Homo sapiens: one gene and its partner. The protein of the gene in region 1 purifies or fractionates together with the protein of each later gene. This does not show direct contact. Each region holds a gene or a part of one and is shown on either strand. Other genes may lie near its edges. The genes, in order: FAM163A and WDR47.

Region 1 (11,255 bases):
TGATACCAAAGAGCCTGGGCTCTCACATATACCCGAGATAAAGAGATTCAATGAAATAGTGTAGGCTTAGCAGAGTGACTGAAACATAGAAAGCTCTCAATGAAGGCTTTCCACCTAATGGTGTTGGAGGACCCATCTTTTGTGGCTGGAAGCAAGTCCTTCTTCCATTGTTTCTGCTATTCAACAGCCTGTCCCATCACCCACCCCAAAAAGAAAGGCAGTACCTAATATCTCCCCCATCCCCTTTGTGTATCCATCGGCTTCCAGGCTGAGGGATCAGCAAAAATGGGTGCTTGGAAGTAGGGGGAACTGAGCCGGGCATCTGTGCTGATAAGAAATGCTCAAAGGGGCATGTAGGACACACTGATTGATGCAGTGACAACTGCGCCAATAATCTTCCTTCTTTCTCTGGGGCAATACAGCCCTAGACTCTAGGATAATGTCAAACCTTTTTTTTTTTTTTCCAAGCATCTCTCTCTTCACCTTTTTGAGGTCCAAATGCAACACCAGAAATAGCCCTCCTACGTATCTTTTGCCCTTTCTGATGTCCAGTCACAGTGTTCCTCTTGCTCCTTTACCCAATCCTATCCAGTCGCTGACACTTTATCCTGTACAAGGGAACATTAGGGCAATAGAGAAAGGGGTGGTTTCTATTTCTGCAGATTGTTTTCAAGGCTGGATGATCATAACTTGCCTACCCAGCTCAGAGAGCCTGCTGTCCAAAGACACCTCTCCCCAGCTTTCCAAGTACAACTCTGTATATTTCAAAGGAATACTGGATGGCCCAGATACTATGGGCACTGTGCAGTCTCACAGCCCTTTGGCTTTTAATCCAAAGGGAACCTCTCAAGCAACCAAAAGGGGGTGGGGTACGTCACCCCACAATGTTAAGCTGGAAAAGTGTTTGAGGGAACATACCAGGCACAGGACGGACAAAGAGAATTTTAAAATAGTTAACGTATTCCCATGGTTCAGAATTCAAAAGGTACAAAAGGGTTTACAGGCCACTTTTCCTGGAGGTAACAGGTATGATTAGGTTTTGTGTCTATAGTTATACACAGACAAGCAAATACCCTAAGACTCTCCTTCCTCTTGTATAACACGAGCAGCAGCATATTATAAACACTCCAGGCATGTTGTTTTTTCCACTTAGCCATATATCTTGGAAATCATTCCATATCAGTTATATAGTAAACTTACTAATTCTTTTTTCCATGAATGAATAGGACGCTATTTGACTCTCTGGAAGTACCATAAGACACTTAACAAGTCCCCCTTTGATAAGCATGTAAGTTGTTCTTTCACAGTTCGAACAGTGCTATAATGTACATATATCTTTGTGCCCATATGCAAGTTTAACAACAAGTTCAATTCCTAAAAATGGAATCACTAGGTCAGATGGCATGGGCGTTTATAATTTTGACAAGTGTTTCCAAAAATGCCCTCCAAAGTTGTACCAATTTACTCTCCCAGCAGCAATATATGAAAGTACCTGTTTTTCTACAACCTCATCAACGGTTTATCTCTTTGATGTTTGCTAGTTGAAAGATTTGTACTTAATAAGAAATTAGTCCTTTGTGTAGGAGTTAAACCCTTGAGTGACAGAGAGAAGGAAGTGCTGGCTGTTTACCAGGCCAGCACTTTCTGAAGTCTAGAGTCTAATGGGGTTATAAATATCTCTTGGATCTACAAGTAAGAGTCTTTATTCACGACAATTCTGGATTTCCAGCTACCACATGTGTGTCTGTTCTTAATTGGAAGAAAGTGGCCCCGAGGAAGGAGTAGTGACTTTGGAACCAAAGAGACCTGGGCTTCAAGCTCTGCTCTGCCATTAACTAGCTTTATGATCTTGGCAAATCGTTTACCCTACCCCCAAACTCAGTTTCATCACACGAAAAATGGGGAAATAATAGTAATTTTGCAAAACCTTGTGTCTGGCACATAGCAGGTACTTAATAAATGTTAGCAACTTTCATTAATGTTAATAATCACCAGGCCAGATTCTAAACCCCAGGGCACTTTTCACAATGGACAGACCCTGGAATGGCCCTACCAGAGTCAAATGACTTTTTTGTTAAGTGGCCACCCAGAAGATTCCCAACTTCTCCTCTCATCCACCTCAGCCTTGTAAAGTTTGCAGATCAGGAAAATCCCAGCGTGGGCCTCTGGGTGAGGACTGGACTGTGCTGGGGCCAGGCTCCCCTGTTACCAGCTGATGTTTGCACTCAGGCTGAAGCACTCCCTGAACTAAGCCGGGGTCATTTCCAGTTACAGACGGCAAGCTAGAGAAAAAACAGAGATTCTTGGGCCAAACAGGGGGACCTGCTCTCATCTGCACGAGCCCATCTCACCTTGCCTTTCCAGAACAGTATGCCTGATGAGGTCACTGAATGCAGATCTCTAGCCCTGGCAGGGCCGCTGCCGATCTGCCTGATGCCCCAGCAGGACCCTCCGAGAGCCACACATTACTTCCCCTCTGGACGCCAGCATGACCCTGTCTGTACCTGCTGGTTTAGATTCTCTTAGGCATGGGAACTGAAACCTCCCTAGAGAAGGCTAAGAAAATCTGTTTTCAGAGCATGTACCTTTACTGTTCCTTCCCCGGGGTCCACCTCTTTCAGGGTCTGAACGTCTGTTACATGCAAGTATTTCATTAGGGCAGAAGGAAAGCTGCCTTTCCCCTCAGGACACAGACTCCAGCGAATCTTAGGCAAAGCGAACATGCGGGATTGAAGCCCGCAGTTATTGTTTGTCTCCCACACGACATAAAACATGTGTCTGGCTCAGCTGCTAGAGGACCAAGCAGGACACAGACGCAACTGCGCAGACGTCGGTCCTGCCAGCCACGCTGCGGCCCCCTCGGAATCTCAGGATGGGGCCCCCTGGGCGCCCTGGGGGAGGGCCCAGGTGGGCGAAATGACAGGAGAAAGTGCCTGCGGGCCTCCGCCTGCAGGTTGGATGACTGCGTCCCCGTCACGTCAAACTTGCCAGGACTAGCAAACTTCCAGGGCCCCACAGTTCCACTCAGAGGAAAGGAACCCCCAGTGTGACAGGAAAACACGGCTGGTGTGTGTCGGCCAAAGGGCGCTGACCGAGGGAACAGATCTGCACCCCTGACTTCCCTCGCGGCCTTCGGAGCCGCAGAGAACCAGGATGCCACCCACCCAGGGCCCCGGCGCGCGGCTCTCGGCCTCTACCCGCCCCACCCAGGCCAGGCCGGGTGGCGGGGTCCCAGCAGCCCAATGCGGGCCTCGTCCCCACACTGCCTTCTGCTTGCCCGCTCTGCTCTCTGCTTGGCCAGGCCCCCCTCTGGGCCGCGGGGCGGAGGCTTCCGTGTGGCCGGCGCCTTGAGCGCGCAGGGCCCTCTGGAATCGGAGTGCGGTCGCCCGCTCTGGGGCCTCGGGAGCAAGGACACCGCGGCCCCACGGGCACGTCCGGCTTCTCCGTCCTACCCCCGCTGTCCTGGCCCCAGACTCGCTGGCCGAGACGCCGGCTCCCACAGGCCCTGCCGCCTGCATGCCCACGCCGCGCCGCGAAGGCACTTCGCCCTCTTTATTTTGTAAAACTTCGGAAAAATCACCAGCAAACCGAGCCCCGGTCTCAAGGCTGCCCACAGTTGCCGGCACGAATCCGGACTCACTGACCGACGGCGGCGCATTGGCCCAGCAGACCCCGCCGGTCGGCCCCCACCCTACCCGGGTCCCCTGCCCCGGCCTCATGCTCCCCGGGTGGCGGCGGGCGCGAGGCGCAGCAGCAGCAGCGGCGTCCGCGTGAGGTCCGGCCCGGCTGAAAGCGCAGAGAAGCGGGTCGCTGCAGACACGCTGAGTAGAGCGCCTTCGGCACGGCCCGGGGGCAGGGACCCGGCAAGTCCGGCCCCGAGGCGCGAGCACCGCCACCCGCGGTCTGGCCACGAGGCCGGAGATGCCCCCGAGTCGCCGCGCCCCTCGGAGCGAGAGGCCCCTGGCGCGGAGAGGGAGAGCCAGGGCGCAGACCCAGACCCAGTGGGGAACTGCTACGCTGAAGGCGGCGCGGTGGGCAGAGGGAGGCAGCCGGGGCGCGCTTACCCGGGTGTTGAGGCGCCCTCGAAAGTACGCGGTGGCCAGACACATCCCCGCGCGGAGCCCGAGCCCGGCGGCTCCTCAGCCCGCCCGCGCCCCGCCCCGCCCCTCCGCTCGCTCCCCTGCACGATGAGGCCCCGACCCGTTACCGCGGCTGAGCAGCTCCGCTCGGGCAGCGACTCCCGCGTTCGGCTCCCACGGGGTCGCAGCGCGTCCTTCCGGGCGCCAGCGGCTGGGGCGGCACACGTGAGGCTCCGCGGCCTCCCCGGCGCTCCGAGGACTGCCCTGCTCCGGGCGTGGAGCCTCATCGCCCCTCCAGGTGGCCAGGGCTGGGGGCAGGTACCGCGCGACCTGATTGGCGCTGGCCGGAGTCCGGGGAGAATCCCCCGCCAGAGAGGCTGATGCACGCGGGCCAAGTGAAGCCACGCAGTCAAACAGCGCAACGGGCGCCTTCCAAACACCCCTGCTTAGCTCCGCTGCCTTTTTGCCTAAGAAATGTAAACGCGGGAGGCGGGCGCCCTGGGAACGCCTCAGTACAGGGGACTTTGCGCCCTACAGATCGGGTCCAGGACGGAAAATTCGGAGAGCATGAGAATCTTAGGGACCAGGGTGTGTCGCTATCCACTGGAAAGAGACTGCCTCGAGAGCCTCCCGAAGGGCTCCTCTGTGTTCCTATTTCCGGCCCGCACTGTGCCCTGGAAATCCAGGGACACCTGGATGTCCCCGCCGCTGAGGGGTACCCGGGCCTCGTGGCAGGGCGGGATCAGATCAGTCAGGGTGTGATTAGAGCTGTGACGGTGAAGTCTGGCAGGAAGAGGCAGGAAGGGAGAGAAGCAATGCCTCGACACGAGGAGAAACCTGAATGGTGCGCTAGATTTCTTGTCTGAAATCACCTTCTTTTAATGTCTTAAAACTCTAGGAGTTGCTTATGTGCTGTAGCCCAGCCAATAAGTTCTGACATCAGTAATTCAGAGGGTCTGCTGAGAGAACATGACGGCCTGAGAGGGGATAAGCTGTCACTTCTCCGCACTTCCGAAGCATCTCTATATGGAACGTTTACCTGTTCCGGTCTGATCATCTTTCTCTTGATCCTGCTTTCCGATCTTGATTGGACTGAAGACAGCGAGGACAGAGGGGTGGGGTCAACCCGGTTAATGCTCGAGGAGGGAGCGTTCCCACTACATCAACAGTTTTCCTCTCTTCTTAGGCAGGTTAGTTCTGGGGATTCAAGGCAAAGGTGATCAGGGAATCCATTTGAAAAACAAAAACAGAAAACTCCAAAACATTTAAAAACTGTGGACCCTCAGCCTAGGTCCAACTTCTAAAGAAGGGGAGTAAGAAATTTAGCACCTGGAGCAACCTTATTATTCCTAATACACTGTTAAAAAACAAAAATCCCAAGGCAAGCCACCACCTCATCATTCCAGCAAGTCTACTGTTGTTGCAGCACACTCCACTTTTTACTCTAACTCTACTCACAGGTTTTACATTTTGAGCTCAGATTTTCATGTGCCGTCTTTTCTCAGCACAGTTAAGGCTCGTGCCTACATTCTTCCTCATCTCAAAGGCAAAACAATGAAATATGAAGAGGACGTGTGATTTTGTTATAAACTGTAACACAGAAAAGTGAAAACAACGTACCTTCATAGCCTAATGAATCATAAACCAAACACCACCCAGGTCATTGCTACCACCCCAGAGGTTCCCCTGCTCCACCAATTCCCTTCCACAAGTCCTTCCCTTCCCCCTAAAGCAACTATCCTGACTTTATGGTAATTACTTCCTTACGTATCTTTATAGTTTCTACCAATTTGTAATGTATCCCTAACCACTACAGTTTAGTTTTGCTTGGTTTTGAACTTTCTATAAATTGAATAATATTGCATGCATATTTTTGTGTGTGCCTGGCCTCTTCTTCCATTTGGTTGTAAGAGTCATCTACTTTTGTGGCATGTAGTTGTAGTTCATTCATTTTCATTGCTACTTAATATTCCCTTGTATGGACATATCACAATTTCTTTGTCCATTCTGGCACTTTAGATATTTGGGTTTTTCCCATTGGGGCTATTACAAGTGCTATTGCTAATGACATTTTTGTGTATATCTCCTGGTATGCAAGTGCAATCTTTAGGATGTATACCTTGGGGTGAAATTACTGGACTATAGGGTATGCATATATTTAGTTTTATTAGATCATGCCAAATTGTTTTCCAAAGTGGCCACAAAATTTAGACTCCCATCAGAGATGTACGGTAATTGCCATTGCTCCGCATCCTTGCCAAAATATAATATTATTAGACTTCTTATGTTTTGCCAGTCTGGCGGAGATGTAATGGTGTCTCACTGTGATCTTCGTTTCATATCCCTAATTACCAATGAAATTGGGCACTTCTACATATGTTTATAGGCTACTTGAGTTTTCTGTTTTCTGAGTGCCTGTTCAAATGTTTGCCCATTTTTTTGAGCTGACTTTTTCTTATTGATTCATAAAAGCTGTTTATAAAGTCTAGCTGCTACCATGCCTTGGTCAGTTAGAGACTGCAAGTATCTTCTACTCATTTAATGGTATCTTTTGATCAAGAGTCGCTTTTTAAATTAGAACTTTCATTTTGAGATAATTGTAGATTTGTAGGCAATTGTAAGAAATAATACAGAGAGATTGCAAGTACCCTTCACCCAGTTTCCCTCATTGGTAATATCTTGCAAAAACTATAGTAAAATATCATAATTAGGATATTGACATTGACACAGTCAAGATACACAACATTTCCACCACCGCAAGATCCCTCATATTGCCCTTTCGTAGCCACACCTGTTTCCCCTGTGCATCCTTCCCCATCTCTAATCTCTTGAAACCACTTACCTGTTTCCCATTTCCAAAATGTAAAATGGTACATTTTGTGATTTCAAGAATGTTATTTAAATGAAATCATTTGTATCCTTTCGTATCAATATATGTAACCTTTTGAATTTTTTCCCACGCAGCAACCTGAGTTGCAGGTTGTTGTATCAGTATTTTGTTCCTTTTTCTTGTAGTATTTCATGGTATGCATGTACCACCAGCTTGTTTAACCATTCACTTAATGAAGGACATTTAGGGTTTTTTCCCCAGTTTCAGGGGTATTACAAATTAAGTTGGCTGAGGTGGGAGGATTGCTTGAGCCCAGTAGTTCCAGACTGGCTAGGCAACATAGTGAGACCCTGTCTCTACATAAAAAAATGAAAAATTAGCTGGGTGTGGCTGCACACACCTGAAGTCCCAGCTACACAAGAGGCTAAAGGGGGAGGATCCCTTGAACCCAGGAGTTGGAGGCTGCAGTAAGCTAGGATTGAACCACCGCACTTCAGCTTGGGAGAACAGAGCAAGACGTCTCAACAACAACAACAACAACAACAACAAAAACCAAATAAAGTTGCCACAAACATTTGTTTACAGGTTTACAAGTGAGCATACATTTTCATATCTCTGGGATAAATGCCCAGGAGAACTATTTCTAGTTTGTAAGGTAAATGCCCAGGGCAACTATTGCTAGATCGTATGGTAGTCACATGCTTAGTTGTTAAAGAGACTGCCAGCCTGTTTTCTAGAGCAATTGTACCATTTTACATCCCAACAAGGAACATATGAATGATCCAGCTTCTCCACAACCTTGGCAGGATTTGGTGTTGTCAATATTTTAAAACTTTCACCCATTCTTATACATGTATAATGATGTGTCATTGTGATTTTAAATTCCATTCCTCTAATGACTACTGATGTCAGACGTCTTCAGGGGCTCGTGCTTACTTGCCATCCTTATTTCCACCTATATGCAATCTTTGGTGAAATCTCTGTTTACGTCTTTTGGTCATTTGCTAATTGGATTGTTTTGTCTTTTTGACTGTTGAATTTTCAGAGTTCTCTATATAGTCTAGATAAGGGGTGTCCAGTCTTTTGGCTTCTCTGGGCCACATTGGAAGAAGAAGAATTGCCTTGGGCCACATATAAAATATAAAATAAAAAACACTAACAACAGCTGATGAGCTAAAAAAAAAATCACAAAACAATTCTCATAATGTTTTAAGAAAGTTTAAAAATTTGTGTTGGGCCGCATTCAAAACCATCCTGGGAGGCTTGTGGCCAGTGGGCCATGAGTTGGACAACCTTGGTCTAGATCCTGGTCCTTTTTCAGATCTGTGGCTTGCAAGTATTTTCCCCCAGTCTTTTCATCCTCTTTACATGCACTTTGTAGAGAAATTTTTAAATTTTGATAAGGTCTAATTTTACTATTTTTTCTATTATGGAGCATGTTGTTGGTGTCAAGACTAAGAACTTTCTGGCTAGCCCTAAACCCCAAAGGTTTTCTCCAATTTTTTTTTTTTCTGTTTCATGTTCTGTTGGTAATCCATCATAAGTTAATTTTTGTATAAGATGTGAGGGCTAGGTTGAGCAGCTCCTTCTCCTTCTCCTTCTTCTCCTTCTTCTTCTTGCCTAATAAGGTCCAGTTGCTCTGGCATCATTTGTTAACCATTTAATTGCTTTTGCACCTTTGTCAAGAATCAGCTGGGCATAGTTGTGTGGGTTTATTTTTGGATTCTCTATTCCATTCCATTGATCTATGTGTCTATCCCTCCACCAATACCATACAGTCTTGATTACTGAAGCTATATAATAAATCTTGAAACTGGGTAGTCTGATTCTGCCCACTTTATTCCTTCTATTCAAAATTGTTTTAGCTCTTCTAGTTCCTTTGCCTTTCTGTTTAAATATTAGAATAATCTCCTCTATATCTATTAATACAAAAATTCTCATTGATATTTTGATATAAATTAGGGAGAAAGCATTCAGTCTTTCATGATTAATTATAGATTAGCTATAGGTATCTAATTTGCCTTCTATTTGTATTTTTCTGAGAATTTTGTCATAAATGGGTGTTGAATTTTGTCAAATGCTTTTACATTAGTTTGTATAGCCATGTGATTTTTTCTTTTTTTAGCCTTTTAATATGGTGGATTGCATTGATTTTTGAAAGTTGAACCAGCTTTGCATTCCTGGAATAAAGCCTACTTGGTCAAAGTGTATAAATCTTTTCACATATTGCTAAATTCTTGGTTTTTAGATTTTTTAAACACAGCTTTATTGAGGTATAATTGATACAAAAAACTACATATTTTTGTGATATTTTTGCTTTTATTATTATTTTAAATTGACATGTAATAATTGTACATATTCATGGAGTACAATGTGATACTTTGATACAAGTATATAATGTGCAATGATCAAATCAGGGTAATTAGCAAATACATCACCTCACACATTTATCATTTCTTTGTGTTGGGAACATTCAAAATCCACTCTTCTAGCTATTTGAAAATATACAATTAATTCTCACCCTAAAGTGCTACAGAGCACTAGAATTTATGCCTTCTACTTAGCTGTACTTTTGTATCTGTTAACCAGCCTTTGGTCATCCCCTCTCCCTATTCCCCTTCCCTTCCTCTCCACTTCTATGATACCAACTTTTATAGATTCCACATGTGCCAAGAACATGCAGATTTATCACTCTGTGCCTGGCTTATTTAACTTAACCTAATGTCCTCCAAGCTCATCCATGTAAACTGCACCTATTTAACGTATTCAATCTAATGAGTTTGGACATACTGCGAAACCATCACTACAAATCAAGGTGATACACATAGGCATCACCTCTAAAAGTTTCCTTGCATCTCTTCGCTTTTTAAGGATTTTTTTTTTTTTTGAGACAGAGTCTCACTGTGTTGCCCAGGCTGGAGTGTAGTGGTGCGATCTCCACTCTCTGCAAGCTCTGCCTCCCAGGTTCATGCCATTCTCCTGCCTCAGCCTCCCGAGTAGCTGGGACTACAGGCGCCTGCCACCACGCCCAGCTAATTTTTTGTATTTTTAGTAGAGACGGAGTTTCACCGTGTTAGCCACGATGGTCTTGATCTCCTGACCTTGTGATCTGCCCGCCTCGGCCTCCCAAAGTGCTGGGATTACAGGTGTGAGCCACCGCGCCCAGCTGCTTTTTGGTCTTTTTTGATGGGGCGTTCGTTGTTGTAAGAACACTTAACATGAGATCTACCCTCTGAACAAACTTCTAAGTGCACAGTCCAGCATTGTTAACTATAGGCATTATGTTGTATGGCAGATCTCTGGAATTTATTCATCTTGTATAACTGAAACTGTATAGCCATTGAACAACAACTCTTCATTTCCTCCTTTCTCCCAGCTACTTGGAAACCACTATTTATTTTCTGCTTCTGTGAGTTACTATTTTAGATACCTTATGTAAGTGGAATTATGCAATATTTTTCCTCTTCTAACAGGCTTATTTTCACTTAGCATCATCTCCTTCAGGTTCATCCATGTTGTCACAAATAGCAGGATTTCCTTCTTTTATAAGGGTGATAATATTTCCTTGTATTTATATACAATACATTTTTCTCCTTACATGTCAGTGGACATTTGGGTTGTTTTGATACCTTGGCTATTGTGATAATGCTGCAATGAACATGGGAGTGCAGGTATCTCTTTGAGATACTGATTTTTTAGATATATATCAGAAGTGGGATTACTGGATCATATGGTTTTCAATTTTAAATTTTTTGAGGAAAAAATTTAAAATTTGAGGAAATGTCATATTATTTACCGCAGCAGCTGTACCATTTTACATTCCAACCAACAGTGTACAAAGGTTCCAATTTCTCCACAGCAATGCCAATACTTGTTACCTTTTGACTTTTTTTTTCTTTTTTCTTTTTTTTTGAGACTGAGTCTTGCTTTGTCACCCAGGCTAGAGTGCAGTGGTGCAATCTCTGCTCACTGCAACCTCTGCCTCCTGGGTTCAAGTGATTCTTCTGCCTCAGCCTCCCAAGTAGCTGGGATTACAGGCTGCCACCGCGCCTGGCTAATTTTTTTTTTGTATTTTTAGTAGAGATGGGGTTTCACCATCTTGGCCAAGTTGGTCTCGAACTCCTGACTTCGTGATCCACCCGCCTTGGCCTTCCAAAGTGCTGGGATTACAGGAGTAAGCCACCATGCCTGGCCCACCTTTTGACTTTTTGAGAACAGCACCACCCTAACAGGTTTGAGATGATATCTCAATATAGTTCTGATTTGCATTTCTCCCATGATTAGTGTGTTGAACACTTTTTTATATACCATTTGGCCATTTGTATGCCTTCTTTGGAGAAATGTTT
Region 2 (11,864 bases), about 71 Mb from region 1:
CAGCTACTAGGGAGGCTGAGGCAGGAGAATCACTTGAACCTGGAAGGCAGAGGTTGCGGTGAGCCGACATCACGCCATCACACTCCAGCCTGGGCAACAAGAGCAAAACTCCGTCTAAAAAAAAAAAAACAAAAAACAAAACAAGACTGGGCGTGGTGGCTCACGCTTGTAATCCCAGCACTTTGGGAGGCCGAGGTGGGCAGATCACGAGGTCAGGAGATCGAGACCACAGTGAAACCCTGTCTCTACTAAAAATATAAAAAATTAGCCGGGCTTGGTGGCGGGCGCCTGTAATCCCAGCTACTCAGAGAGGCTGAGGCAGGAGAATGGCATGAACCTGGGAGGCGGAGCTTGCAGTGAGCTGAGATCGCACCACTGCACTCCAGCCTGGGGGACAGAGCGAGACCTCGTCTCAAAAAAAAAAAAAAAAAAAACCAACCCAATTCTATAAAATTTTCTCAAAAGATTTTATAAAAGGTTCCATTTTCTTTTTCATCACAACAACAAGAGTCACAAAACATGGTACTTAGCCATAGGAAAAAAACATTATTTGAGTTACATATGTCAAGCATACTACATAACTAGTAATTATAAATAGTATAAAATTTTTATGTCTTTTTGCTTGTAGTACTATTTTTTTCTATCTTTCTTTCTTTCTCTCTCTTTGAGACTGGGTCTCACTGTCTCCCAGGCTGGTAGAGCCTTGTCCACCCAGGCTCAAGTGATTCTCTCACCTCAGCCTCCCCAGTAGCTAGGACCACAGGTGTGCACCACCACACTCAGCTAGCATTTTTTTTTTAATTGTTTGTAGACATGAGGTCTCACTATGTTGCCCAGGCTGGTCTCAAACGTCTGGGCTCAAGCAATCCTCCCACCTCATCCTCCCAAAATGCTCGCATTACAGGTATGAGCCACCTCGCCCAGCCCAGTACTATTTCTCAGTTAAAACAGGATGTTGACTTGTAAAATGAGAACAAGCTCCTAGCAGAGTGGCAAGCATGCAACTGGTGCTCAATAAATGTAAATTCCTTCCCTTCAGAGCTCCTAGCCTTGGTAAGGACAATGTGTCAAAAGGACTGCTAATGAATTGCTGCGGGAGAGCTACTGTGCTGTGAAGTATAAAAATTTACTTTGGAATAAGCTTACTTATTTTTGAAAATATTTCAGTAATTTAAAAAATATCGAGCCAGGTGCAGTGGCTCATGCCTGTAATCCCAGCACTTTGGGAAGCCAAGGCAGGCAGGTCACTTGAGTCTAGGAGTTCAACACCAGCCTGGGCAACATGGCAAAACCCTATCTCTACAAAAAATACAAAAATTAGCCAGGTGTGGTGGCAAGCACCTGTAGTCCTAGCTACTCGGGAGGCTGAGGTAGGAGGATCACTTGAGCCCAGGAGTTTGAGGCTGCAGTGGGCTATCATCATGCCACTGTACTGCAGCCTGAACGATAAAGTGAGACCCTGTCTCAAAAAATAAATAAACAGGCCAGGTGCAGTGGCTCACGCCTGTAATCACAACACTTTGGGAGGCCGAACTGGGTGGATCACTTGAGGTCAGGCATTCAAGACCAGCCTGGCCAACATGGTGAAACCCTGTCTCTACTAAAAATACAAAAATTAGTCAAGTGTGGGGGTATGTGCACCTGCAATCCCAGCTACTTGGGAGGCTGAGGCAGGAGAATCACTTGAACTTGGGAGGCGGAGGTTGCAGTGAGCCGAGATCACGCCACTGCACTCCAGCCTAGGCAACAGAGCGAGACCCCATCTCAAATAATAACAATAATAATAAATAAATAAATAAATAAATATTGGAAAGTTCACTGAGATCAATTATGTTAAACATACTATATGAAGAAACTCCTACTTGTGATAATATTCATCTGAAGCCATTTAAACAGGAGAAGTTCAGGTGGGTAATGAGTGATGAGCATTTACTATGTATTAACAACATGCTACAAACTGGGATACAATGATCGAGCTATTACAGTGAATAAGACTATAGAACACAAAAGAAAGGTTTTAAGGGAGTGTGTGGTATAAATCCTTTTTTTTTTTCTTTTTGAGGTGGAATCTCGCTTTGTCGCCCAGGCTGGAGTGCAGTGGCATGCATGATCTTGGCTCACTGCAACCTCTGCCTCCTGTGTTCAAGCAATTCTCCTACCTCAGCCTCCCAAATAGCTGGGATTACAGGCACACGCCACCATGCCCAGTTAATTTTTATATTTTTGATAAAGACAGGGTTTCACCATGTTGCCCAGGCTGGTCTCAAACTCCTGACCTCACGTGATCCGCCCGCTTTGGCCTCCCAAAGTGCTGGGATTACTGGCACAAGCCACCACGCCCAGCCGGTATAAACCCTTTTTTAAGGATATCTTTTCACTTGAACAGAAACAAACTCAACATAGAGAAAAATTAGTTGAAATATGCAAGCTTTGGCTATTCGGTGTAATAGTCTCAAAACTGAAGTATCCTCAGGTGTGGGCCAGCATTGGATTTGGAGTCTGAAGACCTGGGTTCAAGTCTTCTGTTCAAAAATAATATACAGGGTCAGGCACGGTGGCTCAAGCTTGTAATCCCAACATTGCGAGCCCAAGGCGGGTGGATCACCTGAGGCTAGGAGTTCGAGACCAGCCTAGCCAACATGGTGAAACCCCATCTCTACTAAAAATACAAAAAGTAGCCGGGCGTGGTGGCAGGCACCTGTAATCCCAGCTACTTGGGAGGCTGAGGCAGGAGAATCGCTTGAACCCAGGAGGCAGAGGCTGCAGTGAGCCGAGATCATGCCACTGAACTCCAGCCTGGATGACAGAGTGAGACTCCGTCTCAAAAAAAAAAAAAAAAAAAAAAGGTAATCAACAGATGCCTTCCAAAGTGCTTTCAACTCAAAGCCCATTCTCAGACTAAAACAATAGCAAGCATCACCATTTTACAGAATGAGAAATCAGTCAATGTTAAGCTTAGCAGCTCTTACAAGAATGCAATCAGTAGCAAAAGAAAGCTTAAATACAGGTAATCTGATTTTTCAGCTTACTGATCTACTAAGGAAAACTGCACATCTTTTCATAACTAAAGCGTTTCTGAAACTGCAGCATACATTAAGCATTTCATATGCCGCCCATTAAATAACTAATATATTCTATTTCACAAACAGGAAAAGAGGTTGAACACCATTATGTAAGTAGTAACATAGGATAGTACCCCTGTTCTCTTATGACACATTCTTAACAGTACTGGTTTTTAAGGCGAGGGAGAAAAGAACCAGGAAGTGGACCAGTGGGAGATAAACACAGGTTAAAATCCCGTCCAAAAAAAAAAAAAAATTTACATCTTCATAATGGCATCCAAATTCAAGTGTTTGGGTTTTGGCTTTTTTACCTAACAATATACTGTTGTGACTTGACTTTTCCATTACCGTGTAATAATGTTTCTTTCCTATTGGAAGCAATCTCTCCTAATCTCCCAAACCTAAAGTAGAATTATTCATTTCATCTTCTTCCTAAATGAGACCTCGACAATATGCCATATAAAGGAAAATGGGCTCTTAGGCGTTTCTCCTTCTTAGTAAAATGCCAATGCAACATATGCCAACACTGGAGACAAAAAAATTCTACTTGAATTTACTGTGAAAAAAAGATTTATAGCATTTTTTAAACCTACATGTTCATTTCTGTGCCATTAACTTTTTGAGGCATTCTACAGAGTCTCCAACAAAGAGAGAAATAAGTATTAGGATCACAACCTACGAATCTGGGTGGAACAAAGACTTCTCCTTTCATTATGCAGAGAAAACCAAGTTGCCAAAAAAAAAAAACGGTCCCCTCAGATACCATGCACGGTTACTAACTGCACGTCTGGGTACAGAGAAGGAAAAATCATCTGGTCAAAAGCCCAAATGCCGCCCCGGCCTACCCTCGCCCCCCGCCCCCGCCCCCTTTGCCCATGGCCTCGCCCCAGAGCTAGAGTTCCAATATTTTTCTCCCCAATAAAGGGAAGCGGTTTAACCCTTTGAGTTCCACAACCTTGCGTTCTTCTACGCAGGCGCCCCTCCAGCGCAATCCCAGTTCTAAATCGAGTCGCTGCCCCTTTCCGCGACCACACCCAGATCCCCAAAGGCCTGCTCCCATCCCGACCATTGATGTGAGAAAGGCCAAAACCGGCCCCAGCGGGGCTCCCAGCCCCGCCGCTCCCTCTCTTCCTCCGGGCCAAGGCGTGCCCAGAAAGGGACGCGAGCGCGCCCCTCAGTTCTCGCACGGGCTCGACCAAGGGGCGAGGAAGGAAGAATCGGCGCAGCGGCGAGATGGGCACGAACCTCGCGCTCACTTGCTGCTCAGTGCCAGGGCGAGGGGCGTCGCTCTGCCCCCAGAATCCAACTGGTAATGTGGGAAAGGTGTGGTCCAGGACCGGTGACCTCGAACCGGGGCCCAGCAGTTCGCAGATCCTCACCCCGCGATGCTGGGGCCTCACCCACGACCCCAGCCCCCTCCCAGTCGGCACCCAAGCCCACTAAAGACCCCTCTCCGGGGCCGCAAACACAGTCCTCGGGGCCGCCCGGTCGGAGCCGTGTCAGGTGGTGACAGGAGGCGACGGGTGACCATGGCAACCCGAGGTGTGCAGCGGACCGACCCAGCCTCCGACTCCCGGAGTCACCCACCTGAGGGCTCCAGGGCAAGCCCGGAGGAGCGGCGGAGGAGAACGCGGCTGGGAGGCCGGCGGCCAGGGCCCCGAAGCGGCCGGCTCCGGGCTGCGGCAGGAGCACGACGGCGGCGGTCTGGGTTTGGCGTCGGTCCTCCCTCCTACCGCCCGCGCGTCAATCCATCAGTTCGTCAATCCGTCCTTCTCACGTCCGCCCCTCCCGGCCCAGCGACTCCTCAGCTCAGCCTCTTGCAGACTGCGGTTGTCAAGTGCCGGGGAGCCGAGCTCTACCCGCGAGCGGCAGCCAATCGCCGCGCTTCCCCGAGGCGCCTCAGGACCCCGCCGCGCGGGGCGGCCAGGCAGGTGCCTGAGCCGAAGGGCGAGTCGGCGGGGCGGGGCGGGGCGGGGAGGGGCGTGGAGGGGCGGGCCCAAAGCTGGGGCGGGGAGGGGCGGGGCGGACCAAAGCCTGGGCGGGGCGGACCAAAGCCTGGGCGGGGCGGGCGGGGGTCGGGCTTGGAGGGACCGGCTAGGGGCCCGGGGGAGTAGCAGAACGGGTGCGGCAATAGCGTGAGACTGGTGGCAGGGACGTAGACCCTTAGCTGGCCGGTGACCCCATGTCCCAAAATAGCACGAACAGGATTGTCGCCTGCAAATGGAGAAGACTGCGCATTAGGATTGACTCTTCATACTCCTCCCCGATAATTAATAAAGGTTAATGAAATTAATGTTGCCTTCTACCCTTCTTTCGCTGCTTTCCTAGGTCCCACTTCGTCCCAGAAAACTCCAGTAGTTTGTTTGTCCCCTTCCTGGTTTCTCATTTTGCAAAGCTGATCTGCCTTGAAAGCATTTTTCAGTTACTTAACATTTAATATGTTCAGGTTTTGTCTACTCCTGTTGGTTGTAAGCCCCTTATTCCACAAATATACGTGATGTTCAACCGAGCTTAATTAAGCATCCAGGAAGTATAACCATAAGGAAGAATACAATTACACAAACCTGTAAGAACATCATTCTCGGCCAGGCGCGGTGGCTCACGCCTGCAATTCCAGCACTTTAGGAGGCCGAGGCGGGCGGATCACCTGAGGTCAGGAGTTTGAGACCAGCCTGGCCAACATGGTGAAACCCCGTCTCTACTAAAAATACAAAAATTAGCCGGGTGTGCTGGCAAGCCTCCTGTAATCACAGCTACTTGGTAGGCTGAGGCAGGAGAATCGCTTCAACCTGGGAGACGGAGGTTGCAGTGAGCCGAGATCATGCCACTGCACTCCGGCCTGGGTGACAGAGCGAGAGACTCCGTCTCACAGAAAAAAGAACATCATCCTCACAGAGGCGAAAGTCCAGAGTGAGCTGGACCTCCCAAAAGGGGAAAATGGGGTAACAGTCTGGTAAAGAGAATAAACATCAAAAATATTTCTGGCACTCCCATGCTTATTGCAGTACTATTCACAATAGCCAAAATATAGAATCAACCTATGTCAATCAACAGACAAATGGATAAAGAAAATGTGGTACATATACACAATGCAATCTTTTTTTTTTTTTTTTTTTTTTGAGACGGAGTCTCGCTCTGTCGCCCAGGCTGGAGTGCAGTGGCGCCATCTCGACTCACTGCAAACTCCGCCTCCCGGGTTCACGCCATTCTCCTGCCTCAGCCTCCCGCGTAGCTGGGACTACAGGCGCCCGCCACCAGGTCCGGCTAATTTTTTTTTTTTTTTTTGTATTTTTATTAGAAACGGGGTTTCACCGTGTTAGCCAGGATGGTCTTGATCTCCTGACCTCGTGATCCACCCGCCTCGGCCTCCCAAAGTGCTGGGATTACAGGCGTGAGCCACCGCGCCCGGCCACACAATACAATCTTATTCACCCATTAAGAAAGAATGAAATCCTGTCATTTGCAGCAACATGGATGGGACGGGAGGACATTATGTTAAGTGAAACAAGACAAGCACAAAAAGACAAATATTGCACGTTCTCACACATATGTGGGAACTAAAAGAATTGATCTCGTGGAGGTAGTGAATAGAATGGTGGTTACCAGAGGCTAGAAAGTGTAGTGGAGGGCAAAGGGGGGATAAAGAGGTTAATGGGTACAAAAATACAGTTATGTAGCAGGAATAAATTCTAGTGCTCAATAGCATAATTGGGTGACTATAGTTAACAATAATCTATTCTATATTTCCAAACAGCTAGAAGAGAAGATTCAGAATGTTCCCAACACAAAGAAATAGTAAATGGCAGGCCAAGCGTGGTGGCTTATGCCTGTAATCTCAGCACTTTGGGAGGCCGAGGCGGGCAGATCACGAGGTCAAGAGGTCAAGAGATCGAGACCATCCTGGCCAACATGGTGAAACCCTGTCTCTACTAAAAATACAAAAATTAGCCGAGTGTGGTGGTGTGCGCCTGTAGTCCCAGCTACTCGGGAGTCTGAGGCAGGAGAATCACTTGAACCCGGGAGGCGGAGGTTGCAGTGAGCCGAGATTGGGCCACTGCACTCCAGCCTGGTGACAGAGCGAGACCGCGTCTCAAAAAAAAAGAAAAGAAATAATAAATGGGTGGGCACAGTGGCTCATGCCTGAAATCCCAGCACTTTGGGAGGCTTAGGCCAGAGGCTCACATGAGGCCATGAGTTAGAGACTAGCCTAGGCAACATAGTGAGACTCCCTCTCTACAAAAACAAGAATAAAAAATTAGACACGGTGAGACACACCTGCAGTCCTAGCTACTTGAGAGGCTGAAGTGAGAAGATAGTTTGAGCTCAAAGTCCGAGGCTACCATGAGCTATAATCACACTACTGCACTCCAGCCTGGGTGACTGAGTAAGACCCTGTGTCTTAATAATAATAATGCATTTCTAAGGTGATGGATATCCCAATTACCCAGATTTGATCATTACACATTGTATTTACTCCAGAAATATCTACAACTATTATGTAACTATAAAAATTAAAAATAAACAAAATTTAAACCATATTTCTGGGAATACAAAATCTTGTCCAGTTCAAGATAAAAGAAGCGAGAGCTTGAAGATACACATTTCTTTTTTTTCTTTTCTTTTCTTTTTTTCCTTTTTTTTTTTTTTTTTTTGAGATGGGGTCTCACTGTGTCGCCCAGGCTGGAGTGCAGTGGTGCGATCTTGGCACTCTGAACCTCCTCCTCCTGGGTTCAAGCGACTCTCCTGCATCAGCCCCCAGAGTAGCTGGGACTACAGCATACACCACCATGCCCAGCTAGTTTTTGTATTTTTAGTAGAGACAGGGTTTCACCATGTTGGTCAGGCTGGTCTCGACCTCGTGATCCGCCTGCCTGCCTTGGCCTCCCAAAGTCCTGGGGATTACAGGCATAAGCCACTGTGCCTGGCTTTCTTTTTTTTTTGAGACGGAGTCACTCTGTCACCCAGGCTGGAGTACATGGCGCAATCTCAGCTCACTGCAACCTCTGCCTCCTGGGTTCAAGCAATTCTGCCTCAGCCCCCTGAGTAGCTGAGATTACAGGCAGGTGCCACCACACTCAGCTAATTTGTGTGCCACCACACTCGGCTAATTTTTGTATTTTTAGTAGAGACGAAGTTTCACCATGTTGGCCAGGCTGGTCTCAAACCCCTGACCTCAAGTGATCCTCCCGCCATGGCCTCCCAAAGTGCTGGGATTACAGGCATGAGCTACTGCACCCAGCCGAGGAAACATTTCTAAGAAAAATACTTATGCATTCAGAGAAAACAACACACAAAAGCTGAACTACAAAATTTCAATTGCCTAGTCAGTAACTCCTGGAAGAAAGTCTTCATTATGAACCCTCTTAATGATAAGTGACAGGCAAATAAATATAAACATAATTGAATGTTACCCAGGATCTTGATATTGAAAACAAAACAAGCAAACAAACAACACATTACAGAGTGTTTAAATTGAAAAAGTAGGCAGATACGTTTTTCCTGAAAGTAGTATCTCAATTATTTTGCTAGTATAGTTCATCTAAGAAACCACTTCTAAATCTTTATGATCAAACAAGAAGTTTTGAGAACCAGTATCCTTTTTTTTTTAACTTCATTTTTTATCCCATTTCCCACATTTTTATCAGTTAGAACCTTTTCCCCATGGACCCATATTCTGAAACTTTAGGAATTAATTACATTTTCTTTCTTTTTTTTTTTTTTTGTTTTTTGAGACAGTATTGCTCTGTCGCCCAGGCTGGAGTGCAGTGGGGCGATCTCAGCTCACTGCAACCTCTGCCTCCCGGGTTCAAGCAATTCTCCTTTCTCAGCCTCCCGAATAGATGGGATTACAGGCCCATGCCACCACACCCAACTAATTTTTGTATTTTTAGTAGAGAATGGGTATAACCATGTTGGCCAGGTTGGTCTCGAACTCCTGACCTCAAGTGATCCATCCACCTCAGTCTCCCAAAGTGCTGGGATTACAGATGTGAGCCACCGTGCCCAGCTAGGAATTAATTACATTTATTAACAAATCGTTAATAATTAATTATTGGGTCAGAATCATAGAATTCTAGAGGGTTTTTGTTTGTTTGTTTGTTTGTTTTTTGTGACAGTGTCTCACTCTGTCGCCCAGGCTGGAGTGTAGTAGGGCAGTCATGGCTCTCTGCAGCCTAGAACTCCTGGGCTCAAGCGATCCTTCCACCTCCGCTTCCCCAGCCCAGTAGCTGAGACTACAGGTGCAAGCCACCATGCCTGGCTAATTTTTTTTTTTTTTTTTTTTAAGTAGAGACAGGGTTTTGCCTTGTTGCCCAGGCTGGTGCTAAAATGATCCTTTCCCCTTGGCCTCCCGAAGAGCTAGGATTACAGGCATGAACCATCGTGCCCAGCCCAGCATCCTTTAAATATTTAAATCTTCTACTAGCTCTAGAAAGAGTAACTAATCAGGGACAATCTGACAAACAACCGATCACCTGCTAGGGAGAGTGCTTGAAAAACAGAAGAACCACTCAGTCCAACGGGCAGGAGACACTTCTGGAAGGAACACCATGATGGCTGCCCAGGGAGAGCCCCAGGTCTAGTTCAAACTTGTATTGGTTGGTGGCGGTGGTACTGGAAAAACTACTTTGGTGAAACATCATTTGACTGGTGAATTTGAGAGGTATGTAGCCACATTTGAGAGGTATGGGTGTTGAGGTTCATCACCCAAGTGTTCCACACCAACAGAAGATGTATTAAGTTCAATAAATGGGATACAGCCGGCCAGGAGAAATGTGGTGAACAGAGATGGTTATTACATCGAACCCATAGCCCAGTGTGCCATCATAATGTTTGATGTAACACCAAGAGTTACGTACAAGAATGTGCCTAACTGGCATAGAGATTTGGTGCCAATGTGTGAAATCATCACCATGATGTTGTGTGGCAACAAAGTGGATATTAAGGACAGGTAAGTGAAGGCAAAATCTATTGTCTTCCACCGAAAGAAGAATCTTCAGTACTATGACATTACTGCCAAAACTAACTACAACTTTGAAAAGCCCTTTCTCTGGCTTGCTAGGAAGCTCATTGGAGGCCCTAACTTGGGGTTTGCTACCCTGTACTCCCCTACCTGAGGTTGTCATGGACCCAGCTTTGACAGAGCAATAAGAGCATGAGTTAGAGTTTGCTCAGACAGCTGCTCTCCTGGATGAGGATGATTACCTGTGAGAACAAAGCTGGAGCCCAGTATCAGAAGTATAGTTTTATAGACAGCTTTCCTGTGACGTCAGCAGTGCAAAGTGTGCCTCACCTTGTTATCAAGCTAAGCGGAACATGTGCTTCATCTGTGGGATGCTGAAGGAGATGAATGGGCTTCGGAGTGAATGTGGCAGTTTAAAAAATACCTGTGCCAGGCGCAGTGGCTCATGCCTGTAATCCCAACACTTTGGGAGGCCGAGGTGGGCAGATCACGAGGTCAGGAGTTTGAGACCAGCCTGACCAACATGGTGAAATCCCATCTCTATTAATAATACAAAAATTAGCCAGGCGTGGTGTTAGGCGCCTGTAATCCCAGCTACTCAGGATGCTGAGGCAGGAGAATCGCTTGAACCCGGGAGGCAGAAGTTGCAGTGAGCCGAGATTGCACCACTGCGCTCCAGTTTGGGCAACACAGAGAGACTCTGTCTCAATAATAATAACAATAATAATAATAATAATAATAATAATAATACCTTCATGGCCAGGCGCCATGGCTCACACCTGTAATCCCAGCACTTTGGGAGGCTTAGGCGGGTGGATCATTTGAGGTCAGGAGTTCGAGACCAGCTTGGCCAACGTGATGAGACCCCATCTCTACTAAAAATACAAAAATTAGCTGGGAGTGGTGGTGGGCGCCTGTAATACCAGCTACTCAGAAGGCTGAGGTAGGAGAATTGCTTGAACCTGGGAGGCAGAGATTGCAGCAGTGAGCCGAGATCGTACCACTGCACTCCAGACTGGGAGACAGAGTGAGACTCTGTCTCAAAACAAACAAACAAACAAACAAAACCTTTTTTGGGTGACCTGCATATTTAGCTGTTTTGGAACGCAGTTGATTCCTTCTTGAGTTGCAAATATAAGACTGCCACAGTTACATCAGAAGGAAGGAAGGAAGGAAGGGAGGGAGGGAGGGAGGGAGTGAGGGAGGGAGGGAGGAGGGAAGGAAGGGAAAGAAAAGGAAAGAAGGGAGGGAGGGACGGAGGGGGGAAGGAAGGGAAAGAAAAGGAAGGAAGGAAGGAGAGAAGGAAGGAAGGAAGGAAAGAAGGAAGGGAAAGAAAAGAAAGGAAGGAAGGAAGGAAAACCCCAGTGAAGTATTAGATTGGCTTTGGCATTCATTGAACACAAAATGAAATGCTTTGCTTATGTTCTCATTTAAGCCTCATAATCTCCCTTAAAACACCTATTAATTATTCCTATTTGAGTGATTAAAGAAAATAACTTGCCCAAGGTCACACAGCTAGTATGTAGCAGAGACATTCTGACTCTTAAAACTTTCTTTTTCTATTCTACCACATTAGTATGATTTCTTATCTTTGAGAGGGAGTCTCACCTAGGCTGAAGTGCAGTGGTGCAATCTCACCTCACTTCGAGCTCTCCCTCCCTGGTTCAAGCGATTGTCCTGCCTCAGCCTCCCAAGTAGCTAGGATTACAGGCGTGCACCACCACACCCAGCTAATTTTTTGTATTTTTAGTAGAGACGGGGTCTTACTGTGTTGGCCAGGCTGGTCTCAAACTCCTGACCTCAAGTGATCTGCCAGCCTCACCCTCCAAAGTGCTGGGATT

The links.
Region 2: the proteins of FAM163A (region 1) and WDR47 purify together in Homo sapiens (affinity purification with mass spectrometry; 2 studies listed by BioGRID and IntAct, with this or other methods). This does not show direct contact.

The regions. Positions count from the first base shown.
Region 1 is NC_000001.11:179,736,376-179,747,630, reverse strand, and holds the start of FAM163A (protein FAM163A), read right to left. Parts: upstream 4,341-11,255; 5' UTR 4,208-4,340; exon of another isoform or gene 4,065-4,207; intron 1-4,064.
Region 2 is NC_000001.11:109,037,213-109,049,076, forward strand, and holds the start of WDR47 (WD repeat-containing protein 47), read right to left. Parts: upstream 4,891-11,864; 5' UTR 4,650-4,890; exon of another isoform or gene 4,308-4,649; intron 3,761-4,307; exon of another isoform or gene 3,738-3,760; intron 3,714-3,737; exon of another isoform or gene 3,656-3,713; intron 1-3,655.